Linked DNA regions of Homo sapiens: regions 2 and 3 are each reported to be linked to region 1. The links are microRNA targets in miRTarBase. Many come from high-throughput screens and were not tested one by one. Region 1 holds a microRNA gene; each other region holds the end of a gene's coding sequence.
What was found. The annotated mature microRNA hsa-miR-1914-5p reads CCCUGUGCCCGGCCCACUUCUG and lies in region 1 at 3,411-3,432, shown strand. An mRNA with a match to its seed (bases 2 to 7 or 8) in the 3' UTR can be bound and repressed. Matches are read on the target gene's strand: a 7mer-m8 pairs with bases 2 to 8, a 7mer-A1 pairs with bases 2 to 7 and ends in A, and an 8mer does both.

Region 2: miRTarBase lists PAFAH2 as a target of hsa-miR-1914-5p. Seed matches in the 3' UTR shown: 7mer-m8 at 3,710-3,716 and 7mer-m8 at 3,564-3,570.
Region 3: miRTarBase lists ZNF253 as a target of hsa-miR-1914-5p. Seed matches in the 3' UTR shown: 7mer-A1 at 3,270-3,276.

The regions. Positions count from the first base shown.
Region 1 is chr20:63,939,869-63,944,942 of GRCh38, reverse strand. It overlaps MIR1914 (microRNA 1914), which reads left to right and starts at 3,399; the gene lies at 3,399-3,478. UCKL1 (uridine-cytidine kinase 1 like 1) reads left to right here. Exons shown (of 15, transcript NM_017859.4): 6 at 209-398; 7 at 485-546; 8 at 1,274-1,290; 9 at 3,735-3,833; 10 at 3,900-3,993; 11 at 4,087-4,149; 12 at 4,227-4,349; 13 at 4,458-4,565; 14 at 4,637-4,793; 15 at 4,888-5,074. The coding sequence ends at 4,967. It overlaps MIR647 (microRNA 647), which reads left to right and starts at 2,217; the gene lies at 2,217-2,312. RefSeq lists enhancers at 1,200-1,911, 1,912-2,625.
Region 2 is chr1:25,957,632-25,962,705 of GRCh38, forward strand. PAFAH2 (platelet activating factor acetylhydrolase 2) reads right to left here. Exons shown (of 11, transcript NM_000437.4): 11 at 2,136-4,452. The coding sequence ends at 4,358. Among named protein-coding and RNA genes, the nearest start is that of PAFAH2, 38 kb to the right of the region's middle.
Region 3 is chr19:19,891,791-19,896,864 of GRCh38, reverse strand. It overlaps ZNF253 (zinc finger protein 253), which reads right to left. Exons shown (of 4, transcript NM_021047.3): 4 at 2,191-5,074. The coding sequence ends at 4,118. Among named protein-coding and RNA genes, the nearest start is that of ZNF93, 6.6 kb to the left of the region's middle.

The DNA of each region.
Region 1 (5,074 bases):
GGGTGCCCTGGGGAAGTGGCTCGGGCCAGGCCCACGGACCAGGTGCAGACACCCCCACCTCCCCACTCCTCCCCACCTGCCAGGGTGCCCTGGGGAAGTGGCTCTGGCCAGGCCCACGGACCAGGCGGCCTCAGTGCAGGGGCTGGTCCCAGTGTCTCCATGCCCACTGCTGGCATCTGGCCACTCACTGGCCCGCTGTCTCCACCAGCTCCTGGACATGAAGATCTTTGTGGACACAGACTCCGACATCCGCCTGGTACGGCGGCTGCGCCGGGACATCAGTGAGCGCGGCCGGGACATCGAGGGTGTCATCAAGCAGTACAACAAGTTTGTCAAGCCCTCCTTCGACCAGTACATCCAGCCCACCATGCGCCTGGCAGACATCGTGGTCCCCAGAGGTGAGCCTGCTGGGCTGCCTGTTGGGTGGGTGTCGGGCAGGCCAACGGCCCAGCCCCCGGTCACCCGCCCCCCCATCCCGCCCCAGGGAGCGGCAACACGGTGGCCATCGACCTGATTGTGCAGCACGTGCACAGCCAGCTGGAGGAGGTGAGCGGGGTCCCACGTCCCCACGGCCTAGCCCCCAGCCCCTCTACCCACTTCTCCGCTGCCACCACCCCCAGTGGCCTGGTCACCTCATCCCCCTGCGTTCACTGTCCCCTGCCAGGTGCCAGCCCTGAGTGTCCTGAGCCTGCTTGGCCAGTCAGATTGTCCAGCCCAGACCCCATCCCGTTGTGCTGTGCAGGGCCTGGGTTCCCTGAGGAAGCTGGGGTGGGGGTACAGGTGCTCAGGACCCAGCCGAGGGTGCAGCCCGCTCAGCACACCCAGCCTGAGCTTTTGGGAAGACAGGCATGACCTGCTGGCCCAGGATTGTGGGGTTTCACTGCTGAGTCCCACGCCAGGCCAGGCTCCTCTCTTTCTCAGGGGGTCACCCCAGGAGCGACACCCCCACCAGAGGTCCCCTGCTCCCTGAGGCATTCTATGGCTGGGCCTTGGAGCCTGAGTGGCTCTGAACACACTCCCTACCAGGATGTTGAAGGCCTGAGGCCTGCAGAACAGAGCCCAGGGTCCTGGCTCTGATTGCCCCAACGCAGAACTGCAGGTCTGGCCCAGGTGGTCCCCAGGTTACAGGCATTAGAAGCTTGCCACCCCCCATGGCTGGCTGTGTCCCCGCGGGCCTGCAGCATGTCCATTCCTGGGTGGGGGTGGCCTGGCCGCCTGCCCTGGTCACTGACGCGCCACCGTTCCCTTGTGTCTTCCTGTGTTGCTGCCACAGCGTGAACTCAGCGTCAGGTAAGACTTGCACAGCTGTCTGCACAGATGGAGGCACTTCCAACACCTCCAAGGAGCTCTGGGGTCTGGGCTGTGATCCAGCCAGGCAGCTGGCTCTTCCCCAGTCACAGAAGGGGTGGTGTGGAGTGGTCCCAGCCCTGCTTCTGCCTCCCCTTGCTGGCAGATGAGGACACTGAGGCACAGAGACGTGAAGTAGCTTGCCCAGCGTCACGGAGTCCTGACCCTGTCCTGGCCAGACTTTGCTGGAGGCTCCCCTGACTCCTGAGTCTGTCTATGGGATTTGACCCCAGAGAGCACAGCTGTCCTCCTGAGCCAGCACTGCCAGGCCTCTGGGGCAGTGACTACAGACATGTCCCAGCAGCCAGGGAGCCTGCTGTACCTCCTGTGCCCAGCCTCACGGACCAGTCAGCTTTCCCTGGTTGCAGGTGGAGGGCCTCGCGCCTGTCCTCCCACCCACCCGGGTCCTGCTTGCCCCAGCTCTGTCCTCGCAGCCCGCACAGCTCTGCCAGCAGGAACTGGGCAACTGCAGCAAGAAGCTTGGGCTGGGCCGGGGCCGCATCCCACTGTCCCTCCCCAAGGGCAGGCATGCAGGGGGGTCAGCCACAAGGGACCTGCCCTTCTCCCTGCCTTCTGTGGGTTGGGAGGCTCCTGACTGAGCCACCTGGAGGGAGAGCCCTCACATTCAGAGCCCTCCAAAGAGTTTGCCAAATGTTGGAAATGCCTCCAGGGCCCGTCCACCAGCCGTCCAGCTTCCGGTGCCTGCATGAGTCTCCGCTTGGCCCTCTCCTCGGCCTAGGAACCCGCAGGTCTTGTCCCGTCAGGTTCCTCCTGAAGCTTTTGTTCTGAGAGGAAAAACTTTCCAGGGTTTCAAACTTGGAAAAACACCTGAACGCAGCCAGACACATTTTCCGTCGTCTGGTCAGCCAAGGAAGTGTTGGCCTGTGGCTGCACTCACTTCCTTCAGCCCCAGGAAGCCTTGGTCGGGGGCAGGAGGGAGGGTCAGGCAGGGCTGGGGGCCTGACCGCCCACACTCCTCCTCAGGCCTGCGGGGAACGCCCTGCTCCCCAACTAAGCAGCCTTCTCTTTGTTCTCTTCCTTCTCTCTGTAAACCCCCGTTTCCTGCCTTGTTCCCTCCCTGAACATGCTCTTCACCTGGCAAGCAGAGGAAGCTACGTTGGGATATGTGAGCAGTGTGCTCCGTGGTGCTGCTGTGTGACCCGCCTTCCCGTAGCCCCTTGCCCCGCTGCTCCCGCTAGGCCCTCTTTCCTGCTCCTGCCCCGCCCCTTTCCCTGCCGCTGTCACGCCTCTTTTCTGCCCTGCCACACCCCATTTCCGGCCCCGCCCCTTTCCCTGCCGCTGTCACGCCTCTTTTCTGCCCTGCCACACCCCATTCCCGGCCCCGCCCCTTTCCCTGCCGCTGTCACGCCTCTTTTCTGCCCTGCCACACCCCATTCCCGGCCCCGCCCCTTTCCCTGCCGCTGTCACGCCTCTTTTCTGCCCTGCCACACCCCATTCCCGGCCCCGCCCCTTTCCCTGCCGCTGTCACGCCTCTTTTCTGCCCTGCCACACCCCATTCCCGGCCCCGCCCCTTTCCCTGCCGCTGTCACGCCTCTTTTCTGCCCTGCCACACCCCATTCCCGGCCCCGCCCCTTTCCCTGCCGCTGTCACGCCTCTTTTCTGCCCTGCCACACCCAATTCCGTGCCCTGCCTCTTTCCTTCCCCTGCCACACCCAATTCTGTGGCCTGTCGCTTTCCTCTTCCTGCCCCTGCATCACCCCCTTTCCTGCCCCGCCCCATTCCCTGCCCCTGTCATGCCCCTTTCCGGCTTTGCCTCCTCCCTGTCCCACCTCTTTCTTGCCTCCACCCCGCCCTTTTCCTGCCCGCTCCTAGACCTGCTGCTGCCCCGGCCATCCCCAGGCTTGGGCAGCGGGGCGGGACGGGACAGCCAAGAGACACTGAGCCAGCTTTGCCCCCCACCCCCCTCTCTTGAGGGGCCGCGCACCACCTCGGGGAGGAGCCAGGGCGGGGCCTGACCCCACAAAGCTTTAGTTCCCCCGGGGAGAGGCTGGGGACAAGCTACCCATTCTGGGGTATGACACCTATCAGCACGTGTGAGCCCGCCCTGTGCCCGGCCCACTTCTGCTTCCTCTTAGCGCAGGAGGGGTCCCGCACTGGGAGGGGCCCTCACAGCCTACCCCGCTAGCTTTCTGCCTGATGGTGAGCTTGCCCCGTTGTTCGCCGCCATCTTTCGCCTTTGCCTGACAGCTCAGGTAGGGCGACGTCTCCCCCCAGCTCAGCCCCAGGCAGAAGTCAGGCCCGCTCTGCACCTCGTGCTGTGCCTGGCCCGTGTGTTCCCCTCACAGTGACGCACAGCCGTCCTGTGGGGAGGGAGGGCTCTGGGAAAAGACCCCCTTCTTGAGTGTTCCCCATCGGTTTGTCCCCAGGGCTGCGCTGGCCTCGGCACACCAGTGCCACCCGCTGCCCCGGACGCTGAGCGTCCTGAAGAGCACGCCGCAGGTACGGGGCATGCACACCATCATCAGGTGAGGGCCCACCTGGGGACGGGGCGGCCCCGGGCGCGTGCTCCCGCTCAACTGTTGGCCCCACAGGGACAAGGAGACCAGTCGCGACGAGTTCATCTTCTACTCCAAGAGACTGATGCGGCTGCTCATCGAGCACGCGCTCTCCTTCCTGCCCTTTCAGGTTCGTAGCCCGTAGCCCGCGAGGTGGAGGGTGGGTCTTGGAGCCGGTGCGAGCTCCCTGCGCTCACCGGAGTCCTCACCCTGCACCCCACAGGACTGCGTCGTACAGACCCCGCAGGGGCAGGACTATGCGGGCAAGTGCTATGCGGGGAAGCAGGTACCTGCCTGGGCACACCTGGGCGCGGGACAGGCTGCTGGGGCGGGATGTGGGCGCTTAGCCTCCCCTCCCCGCAGATCACCGGTGTGTCCATTCTGCGCGCCGGTGAAACCATGGAGCCCGCGCTGCGCGCTGTGTGCAAAGACGTGCGCATCGGCACCATCCTCATCCAGACCAACCAGCTTACCGGGGAGCCCGAGGTGCCTGGGGGCAGCCGGGGTGATGAGCCCGGGGGTAGGGGGCAGAGGGAGCTCACAGCAAGGGGACGCAGGGAGCCCCACCTGCAGCCTGACCCCTGCTGCCCGCAGCTCCACTACCTGAGGCTGCCCAAGGACATCAGCGATGACCACGTGATCCTCATGGACTGCACCGTGTCCACGGGCGCGGCGGCCATGATGGCAGTGCGCGTGCTCCTGGTGAGTGAGCCCTGGGTAGGCGGGGCAGGTTCAGGCAGAGGTGGGATTTACCTGCCCAATACACTCGGTAGGACCACGACGTGCCTGAGGACAAGATCTTTTTGCTGTCGCTGCTCATGGCAGAGATGGGCGTGCACTCAGTGGCCTATGCATTTCCGCGAGTGAGAATCATCACCACGGCGGTGGACAAGCGGGTCAATGACCTTTTCCGCATCATCCCAGGCATTGGTGAGGCTGCCCGGGCCCTTCAGCCGCACATGAGGGCAGGGTGGGTGGCCCTGGGAGGCCCCACCACACTGGACCCCCCCCCCCCTTTTTCCAGGGAACTTTGGCGACCGCTACTTTGGGACAGACGCGGTCCCCGATGGCAGTGACGAGGAGGAAGTGGCCTACACGGGTTAGCTGCCCAGTGAGCCATCCCGTCCCCACCACCCTCCTCCTGCCTCCTGACCCAGGACTGCTGAATACAAAGATGTTAATTTTTAAAATGTTACTAGTATAATTTATTC
Region 2 (5,074 bases), not on the chromosome of region 1:
TGGAATCCATCATTTGACATTTCAAGAGCCCAATAGAATTTTTGAGGAAGGACAAGAGGGGCAGCTGTGTCAGAATGCACAGTGGAAGGGGCTCGGGGATTGCATTAGGGACACAGCAAGAATCCAACCAGCCTTAGTCTGAAGTCCAGGAAGTGGAAGGGATATTTACTTACCTTCCTTCCTAACTGGCTTGCCATCCCATGCACAGAAACTTCACATTATACCACTAGGAGGCCTCCATAGGCACAGAGTCTTGCAGCGGGATGGGGAATGAGAAGATGCCAAAGAAACCCAAGACAGGCCGGGCGCGGTGGCTCATGCCTGTAATCCCAGCACTTTGGGAGGCCGAGGCGGGTGGATCACGAGGTCAGGAGATCAAGACCATCCTGGCTAACACAGTGAAACCCCGCCTCTACTAAAAAAAAAAAAAAAAAGAAAAGAAACCCAAGACATCCTCTTTCTGGAAAAGATTCACTAGGATGCAATTTATCAGCACATGTCAGTTATCATCAGGATTTCCTTGCTTATCTAAAGGCCATTTATGAAGTATCCTTCAGGCCCCTGGAAGCTAACCAAAAACCAGAATGAGAGACCAAAGGCCTTGTGATACCCCTTCTGGAGCAGTCAGAGGATTACGAAGCCCATGCGCTAAAGGTGACATACTTTAGCTGCAAGGGAGTCCCTAAAACCCTTGCTCACTGACTGCCTTGTTTTCCCTTAGACAGAGTTTTAAATAATGTGGCTGATTTATCAGTCCATTGCGCATCGAAAGTCATAAACTTGAAGTGGCCAGGGAGGGCTGCTAGGGGCTGGTGCGTTGAAGAGCGATGGTTGCAGCCTGACCACAAATGAGACAACACCAACTCTGAACAGCAACGCAGCACAGGGGGCAACCCCATGCAAGCCAAACAGCTTTCTGCACCTTCCTAGATCAGAGGACACCACTTCTCTGACATGAGACCTGGTCACAAATATTTTGGCTTTCTTGGGATGTTAGGAATGGCCACAGGACGTGCTTTGGCTTATGACACATGAATAGAAATAACGAGAGTCACTCCCGGGCAGAAGCTCTCAGAGCTAGCGGGTGATTCATCAGGCTTTCTTCCTGTTCCACCATGGTGAACAGCAACACTTTCTGATAATGGCAGCTCTACCAGCCTGGATCCTAGAGTGAGGATAAAAATGATGCAGAGCAGAGCCTGCAGCCGATCAAAGAGCACAAGTGGCATGGGCAAGAAATAAACTTTTGTTGCTTTTGGGATTGCCTGTTACCACCATACAACCTAGTCTATCCTGACTGGAACATCCTAAAAGGTTGAACGAGGTCAGCTCACTTTGATTAAAAAGTGTGTGTATTATCTTTTTGGTAGATTACCATTCAAAATAATCAATATTATATTTTGCTGCCTCTAGGATAATTTTCAATTATATGGAAAATTCACATACTCTAGTGTTTGCTGGATAAATGAGTGATTACCAGAACATGAATTGAATGAAGGAAAGGGATCTAGTTTCTGGAACACTCCCTTCACTAGGGAGGCTCCAGGTCTCTTGTTCATGGTTTTGTAAAATTTACCTGTGTTATTTATGGAGCTAAGGTAGAACCTGGGTCTCACATGCTGCTACTGCCAGAACCGGCCTCTCAGCATTTGTGGAATCAGCACAAGGGTGGCGTATGCTCAGGATTGGCCTACGGCTGGTTCTGCAAGTGCTGAGGGTCTCTGGTGCCCATGTGGTAGTTGGAAGGCCCCATTATATATCTGTCTGTGCTCTCATAGAAGGAAATCTATGGGCTCGGCACGGTGGCTCATGCCTGTAATCCCAGCCCTTTGGGAGGCCGAGGCAGGTGGATCATCTGAGGTCAGGAGTTTGCGACCAGCCTGACCAATATGGTGAAACCCCATCTCTACTAAAAAAATACAAAAATTAGCTGGGTGTGGTGGCGTGCACTTGTAGTCCCAGCTTCTCAGAAGGCTGAGACAGGAGAATTGCTTGAATCTGGGAGGCGAAGGTTGCAGTAAGCCGAGATCATGCTACTGCACTCCAGTCTGGGTGACAGAGTGAGACTGCATCTCAAAAAAAAAAGACAGAAATCTATGATGTGTTCTTGAGTAAAAGAGCAAGCCAACAACTTCTTCAGAATATATAGTCTTTTTAAACATACATGGCACATTTACAACATTGATCTCATACTAGGCCAACAACCAAGTTTCAACAAATTTTGAAGGATGGAAACCATATGGGTCATTTTCTCTGACCACAAAGCAATCAAGCTAGAAAAGAAACTATAACTAGAAAAATCTCATGTTTGGAAGGTAGGAAATATACTTTTAAGTAACCCATGGGTTATACATCCTCTCACTTAATCCTCCTAACTATTCATAACGCAGACCCTCATTTTAGAAACGCAGGAGCTGAGATAAGAAAGAGAATACCATTTGCTCAAATTTACCCAGTTGGCAGTGGTGGAGCCAGGACTCAAAACCAGGCTCTGTAACTTTAGAGCCCAGGGCTTTAATGATACCCTTCTTATGCTATGTCTCATGGGAATTCAAAGATCCTCCCTCACAGCCTCAACGATCTGCTGTTTCACCTCTTAGAATGGCCAGTCACTGACAGGTGGAGATCTAGGCCCAGCTTGCTCTGGTGGCCCTGACCATGGGCCATTGTGTAGAGATGCATTTCCCTTTTGCTCTTACCTACTTGGACTGAGGCACGAAGTCTTGAGTAGTGGAGAAGAGAGTTTCAGTTTGATGCCCCCAAATAGCTTTGAACTGGATCCCTAAGAAGACTTCCTTCCTTTTAAAGTTTTTTTCCCACATGGGCCCAAGTAGTAAGCGAACACAGAAGAAAGACAGAAGGAAGTCAATTCCAGATGGCTCTCCATCTTGCTCTACTGCAGATTAAACAGAAAATTCCAACATAACATTAAGCAAACAAGAGTATTAATATCATTCATATTATAAACAGAACAGAATGGAAATTCAGTCTGTATCTGACTTAAATTTGGGGCAAGGGCCTCAGAGCCAGAAAACAGACAATAAAAGCACCCTGATTCTGAGCAAGTTGGAGGTTTATAATATTTGAGGCAAGAAAAAATGACCAAGGTACTCCTAGGCCTCTCTGGGAGTGGCCTTCTGCGTTTTTAAATTTTATTTATTTTAAATTTTTCTTTTTCTTTTTTTTTTTTTTAAGACAGAGTCTTGCTCTGTCACCCAGGCTGGAGTGCAGTGGCGCGATCTTGACTCACTGCAACCTCCGCCTCCTAGGTTCAAGTGATTCTTCTGCTTCAGCCTCCTGAGTAGCTGGGATTATAGGCGCCTGCCATTACGCCAGGCTAATTTTTTGTATTTTTAGTAGAGACGGGGTTTCACCATGTTGGCCAGGTGGTCTTGAACTCCTGGCCTTAAGTGATCTGCCTGCCTTGGCCTCCCAAAGTGTTGGGATTACAGGCATGAGCCACCACGCCCAGCCTTCTTTATTTTTAAGATGGGGTCTCGCTCTACTGTCCAGGCTGCAGCTGAGTTTTAGCTGACCAAACTACTTCTCTGTTGTGGCAAAGGCCTGTGCAAATGGCCATTTAACACTGTTGTTCTGTCATCTTCCCCATCTCAACCTGCTTTTGTTGTTTCCTATCAAGATACACTTAGCAAAACCCCCAAAGACATCCAGAGCTTCTGAGGTACCTCTGTGTACCTCAGTTTTTCTCCCTGTGCTGTGAGAGCCATGCTGTCTGCCACTCTGTGGGCTCACAAGTATAACTTACTACTGTAAGTATAAGTAGTACTATGTTCCATACAATGAGAAGACTTGGAAATAAATAGAAAATGTGATCACGGCTCACACCTAGAAATTTACATAAAGTGCTCAGACTTCAACAAGTGGCCCTGGGGAGGGAGAAGGCTGAGAGGTAGGAAGAGATGGTGTTGGGCTGGGCTAGAGTCTCTGAAGGTAGGGATTTTCATTCTGTCCTTTGGCTTCATCTCTTCCACTGAAGCAGCAGCACTGGCCGGGGGTAAGGGAATGAGCTTCGCTGGGCTGAGTCTTCACATCCAGGCCTCACAGTGCTCAGCCCGGGGCCTGGGTCTCCCCCAGTCCCACTCTACTGCTTGTTCCCCACTCCATCAAGGTCCCAGAAAGTCTGTTTGTCAATCAGCAAGGGATCCCAGTCCCAAAGTGATTTTAAGATCAAATCTAAGATCAAAGTACCCAGTTATCCAAGCAGCAGTGTGATTACACCTTTCAATCTGTGAAAAGGGGTCACGTTGATCACTTCTTGATAGGAGCTCATGGGTGCCCTTGGGTAGCTCCCAAATGAAAACTTGGCTGAAGTGACTTTACAAATGGCCAGTTGTGCCTACAGGCTGGACAGATGGTGGGGGGCCCCTGGGGTGAGCGACGGTCCAATGCCTTCAATAAGGTTGTTCCATTGATTATAGTCTTCTTTCAGGTCTGAAAAGGAAAAAAACAGGAACATTAGGCAAATCATTGTGAGGTTTGGTCAAAGAGTAGCTGACATGCATTGAAGGGGTCATCCTAGAGAGAGGAGCGCCTGGGATACCAAAAGGACTGGTTTTGGTGGGGTTGTGTGGTGGTGGCGGTAACGATAACTATCATTTATTCAGTGCCTTTATAAATGACTTACATAATCCATAACAATTCAATAACGATAATAATAACAGAGGGTAACATTTATTGATGGAGAATTCATTCTAAGGATTGTACTAAATGCTTTACATTCATGGTTTCATTTAATTTTCACCATATCCCTATGAACTAAGTATTAATACTAATCTTATTATGTAATTCAGGAAACTGAGGATCAGGGAAGCTACCTGAGTTGCCCAAGGTCATTAGAGCTATTAAGTGGTAGAGACAGAATTCAAATCCAAGTCAGAAAGGCAGAGAGGGCTGGGCATGGTGGCTTATGCCTGTAACCCTAGTGCTTTGGGAGGCTGAGGCAAGAGGATCACTTGAGGCTAGGAGTTCCTAGACCAGCCTGGGCAACGTAGCAAGACCTCAACTCTACAAAAAAATTAAGAAATTAGCTAGGTATGGTGGTGTGTGCCTGAAG
Region 3 (5,074 bases), not on the chromosome of region 1:
ATAGTCAAGGCTCTGCTGGTTTTATTAGTGATTATTTTTAAGACAGCTTGTAACCATATGATTCGGTTGATCATGTAAATGGGGGTCCGGTATCCCCATGAGCCATCTTGTGCCTAAGTAGCAGGCCTATAATATTGTATGATTCTCTCAGGGGGCCATTTATCATTTTTTCAATTTCTTATAGCTATGATTCTCTTTTCGCGGGAAGCGTAGACAGGGAAGCCAAGGAGTTTGCCTGTTTTTATGGGCAGTAGGAAGAAAGATGGTTTAATAGTGCCAATAACACAACTACCTGCCTACTGGTCAGTAATCTGTCATAAGCTCTATGCCTACATATCCAGTATAATCCAGTGGGGGCTGTCCAGTCCCGGTGGGACTCCAGGTGGGTCCAGTTTGCAACTTTGAGAATTTACTAAATTTTCTCTCTGTGTGATTTGAACTCCACCAAGTGATTGTTTTTGTGGTACCATTATACAGTTTCTGTCTCCGACAACTAAGTCATCCTACGCGGTGAGTGAATTCTTTTCCTTCTCTAGCTATGCAATATTGTTTAATAATTGAGGCTTTTAGGATCAGAAATTATCAGGGTGATTCTTTTGAGCCAGGAATTCATCAGGTACTGTAGGTACTAATTCTCAGGCTTCCCATGGCCATTGATCTCTTATTACAGCTTCTCCACATACATAACATGAAGTGACATTGAGAGACTGGGCTACATGCTTGGCTAATTGCAAAAACAAATTTCTTGTTTTTCCTGGAATTTCTGGTACTGGCACATTTAGTTCATCATAGAAAGTTTGAAACACTGGCTCAGGAGAGTCTTTGTAAGCTTCTCGAACCAAGATATTTACTCAAGGATCCAGTCTGGCCCCGTCGATTCCTAAGGTCACATGCTCCTCTTTTTTTCTAGCGAGGATCAAGGGGATTGGTTATGACTAGCTCTAAGGGGTTACATTGTCCCTGAGTACAGGAAGGGCCATTTTTTCCTTTCTGAAGGTGGGATGGATCTTTTTCATTTTTTTTTTTAATCCAAGTGGCCTAAATGACACAAGACCAGTGTTCACATTTATTTCCACACAGTGCTAATTTATGACAGTTGTATTTATTTTCTGCCATATAGCCTCTTTTCTAATTAAGAGAACCACACCTTATTCCTAACTTATTACTATTAATGACAGCACAGGCATCAAATTTTAAGGTGACTTGTTTGGGCACCCCTTTTTCTTCTGTTTTAGCTAACACTTTACTCATATCATTTATGAGCCCCAACCAGTCCTCAGTCCTTAATCTTATTTAAAAAACTGTCCCTCCAGGGTTCAAGCAATTCTCCTGCCTCAGCCTCCAGGCATGCACGACCACGTCCAGCTAATTTTTGTATTTTTAGTAGAGACGGGGTTTCACCATATTGGCCAGGCTGATCTTGAACTCCTGACCTCAGGCAATCCACCTGCTTCATTAAATTATGCACTAAAAGTGTATAATTACACTGTTTGTAATACAAATGATAAACGCTAGAGGTGACGGATATCTTATTTACCCTAATGAAATTTCTACATATTGTATGCCTGAATCAAAATATACCATATAAGGCATAAATATATACACATACAATATACCCACAAATACTAATAATAAATTTCAGTAAGAAAAAAATAGGCAGGGTGCGGTGGCTTATGCCTGTAATCCCAGCACTTTGGGAGGCCGAGGTGGGCGAATCACTTCAGGTCAGGAGTATGGGACCAGCCTGGCCAACATGGTGAAACCCCGTCTCTACTAAAAATACAAAAATTAACCAGGCATGGTGGCGCACACCTGTAATCTGAGAACTCCCACGTTCAAGCAATTCTCTTGCCTCAGCCTCCTGAATAGCTGGGATTACAGGCATGTGCCATCATGCCCAGCTAATTTTTGTATTTTTAGTAGAGGTGGGGTTTCTCAGTGTTGGTCAGGCTGGTCTCGATCTCCTGACCTCAAGTGATCCATCTGCCTCAGCCTCCCAAAGTGCTAGGATTACAGGCATGAGCCACTGCACCCATCCCATACAACTTTATATTTAAAGAACCATAAATATTATATTAAAACCTGTCTAAACCAATAAATATACCTGGCTGTATTTTAATATTTTTAACTATAATTAATAATTTCTTTCTGTCACTATAATGTAGAAAAGCATTACTCTGAAACCCCACCTTATTTTTTATCTTTGCTTATTAATAAAATAATTCATTATGATTTTTGAAAAAAAGTTTTAAGATGTTCCGCATACATGTTAATGTAGGTTAGACCATCCAAAAGACATTCAAAGCATCAACATTAAGTCATTGGCTAGGATTATAGAAATGAGAACATGAACCCCCACCTTACACATTACTTAATATCAGTTAACTACAAAGAGCCTCTCCACTTATATTTTCATCATGCATCTTACATTTTAATGTCCTTACTCTTTTATAGAAAAGGTCATACATAATGCCCAACTAATAAAAAACAATCTCTAATATCTCTAATGCAGCAACAATTGATCACATGCTTTCACATGTGAATATAATAGGAATAAAATAGCATAAAGCAATGTGAAAGCTGTATTATATCATTATTCACTTTTCAAAAAAATTTTTTCAAGAAAACAAGTATACTTTCAATGTAATTACAGTGCTTCAAAAATCCACTTTTTAAAAAATTATATAGAAATAATTTATCTAACAGCTGTAGCTGTGGATTAGTTTTTATACTGAACATTCTGATTTAGTGTAATGTCTGAAGTGTCAGTGCCTTAATTATTCTATGGAAAATTCTCTGATATTTACATAGAATCAATTTTGAATTAAATATTTTTTGATATTTACTGCATCTGCAAAAATATATTTTGGTATAAACCCTCTGGTGTTTTCTAAGCTGTCATTTTTGGAAAAGAAAAGTCTTTCCATTCATTACATTTGCAGTACTATTCTCAATATAAATTCCCTTGATTCCCTGAAACAAAGCTTGAGCAACTGCTTCAGGGTTTTCCTCTAGTACTACATGTGTGCACTAAGATCTGTGACACAAGTAAAGGCACTACAACCCCCTTTATATTTGTAATGGCTGTCTTCAGAATAAATATTCTTCACTTTAAAGACTTCTATTTTCTGAAAGATTTTTTGACAGTAATTGCACTTTTAATGCTTTATTAACTATGAACCTTCTTCTGTTCAGTAAGATGTGAGTAGGCATTAATGGTTTTTCCATATTCTTTGTATTTGCACAATTTTTCTCAAGGATAAGAGCTTTCCTGTGAAATAAGGTATAAGCACTAATAAAATATTTTGCCACATTCTTCACACTTACAGGAGTTTTGGCAGTATGACTTCTATCACCTACAATCATGTATGACAATCATATAAAGGCTTTGTCACATTTTATACATTTCTAGGGTATTACACTAGTATAATTTATTTTTATGTATAGGAAATGTGGAGGTGTTGGTAAAAGCAATGTCGCATCTTTCAGGTTTCCAGATTTCCTCTTCAGCATGAATTATCGCCATGTCTCTTAAGAATTAAGAACTTGTAGCCAGGCATGGTGTCTCTTAAGAATTAAGAACTTGTAGCCAGGCATGGTGGCTCACGCCTGTAACCCCAGCACTTTGGAAGGCCAAGGCAGGTGGATCACCTGAGGTCAGGAGTTCGAGACCAGCCTGGCCAACATTGTGAAACCCCATCTCTACTAAAAATCCAAAAATTAGCCAGGCGTGGTGTTGGGCACCTGTAATCCCAGCTACTTGGGAGGCTGAGGCAGAAGAATGGCTTAAACCCAGGAGGCAGAGATTGCAGTGAACGGAGATCATGTCATTGCACTCCAGCCTCGGTGACAAGAGTGAAACTCCATCTCAAAAAAAAAGGAATTGAGAACTTGTTATAGGTTTATAGGTTTTGCCACATTCTTCACACTTGTAGGGCTTCTGTTTGGTATGAATTATGTGTAATAAGGGTTGAGAACTTCCTTAAAAAGCTTTGTCACATTCTTTATATTTGTAGGGTTTGTGTTCCATATAAACTCTCAAATTTACTAAGAGTCGAGGGCTGGTTAAAGGCTTTCCCACATTCATCACATTCATAGGGTTTCTCTCCAGTATGAATTATCTTATGCTAATTAAAAGTGGAGGAACATTTAAAAGATCTGTCACATTCTTCACTATGTAGGGTTTTCGTTCAATATGAATTTTCTTATGTTTATTAAGGTCTGAGGACCAGTTAAAAGCTTTGCCACATTCTTCACATTTGTAAGGTTTCTCTCCAGTATGAATTCTCTTATGTGTAGTTAGAGTTGAGGATGCAGTAAAGGATTTGCCACATTCTTCACATTTGTAGGGTTTCTCTCCAGTATGAGTTCTTTTATGTTTGGAGAGGATTGAGGGCCAGGTAAAGGTTTTGCCACATTCATCACATTTGTAGGGTTTCTCTCCAGTATGAATTTTCTCATGTGAAAAAAGGGTTGTGGAATGGTTAAAAGCTTTGCCACATTCTCTACATCTGTAGGGTTTCTCTCCAGTATGAAGTATCTTATGTGTAGTAAGGTGTGAGGATAGGTGAAAGGCTTTGCCACATTCTTCACATTTGTAGGGTTTCTCTCCTGTATGAATTCTCTTATGTATAGTAAGGTTAGAGCAGTGCTTAAAGGATTTGCCACATTCTTCACAGTTGTAGGGTTTCCCTCTAGTATGAATTTTCTTATGTGTGGTAACGTGTGAGGGGTGCTTAAAGGCTTTGCCACATTCTTCACATTTGTAGGGTTTCTCTCCAGTATGAACTATCTTATGTGTAGTAAGGTCTGTGGATCGGTTGAAGGCTTTGCCACATTCTTCACATTTGTAGGGTTTCTCTCCAGTATGAATTTTCTTATGTGTAGTAAGGTTTGAGGACTGCTTAAAGGCTTTGCCACATTCTTCACATCTGTAGGGTTTCTCTCCGGTATGAATTCTCTTATGTGTAGTAAGGTTTGCAGATTGGTTAAAAGCTTTGCCACATTCTTCACATCTGTAAGGTTTCTCTCCAGTATGAATTTTCTTATGTGTAGTAAGGGTTGAGGACCGTTT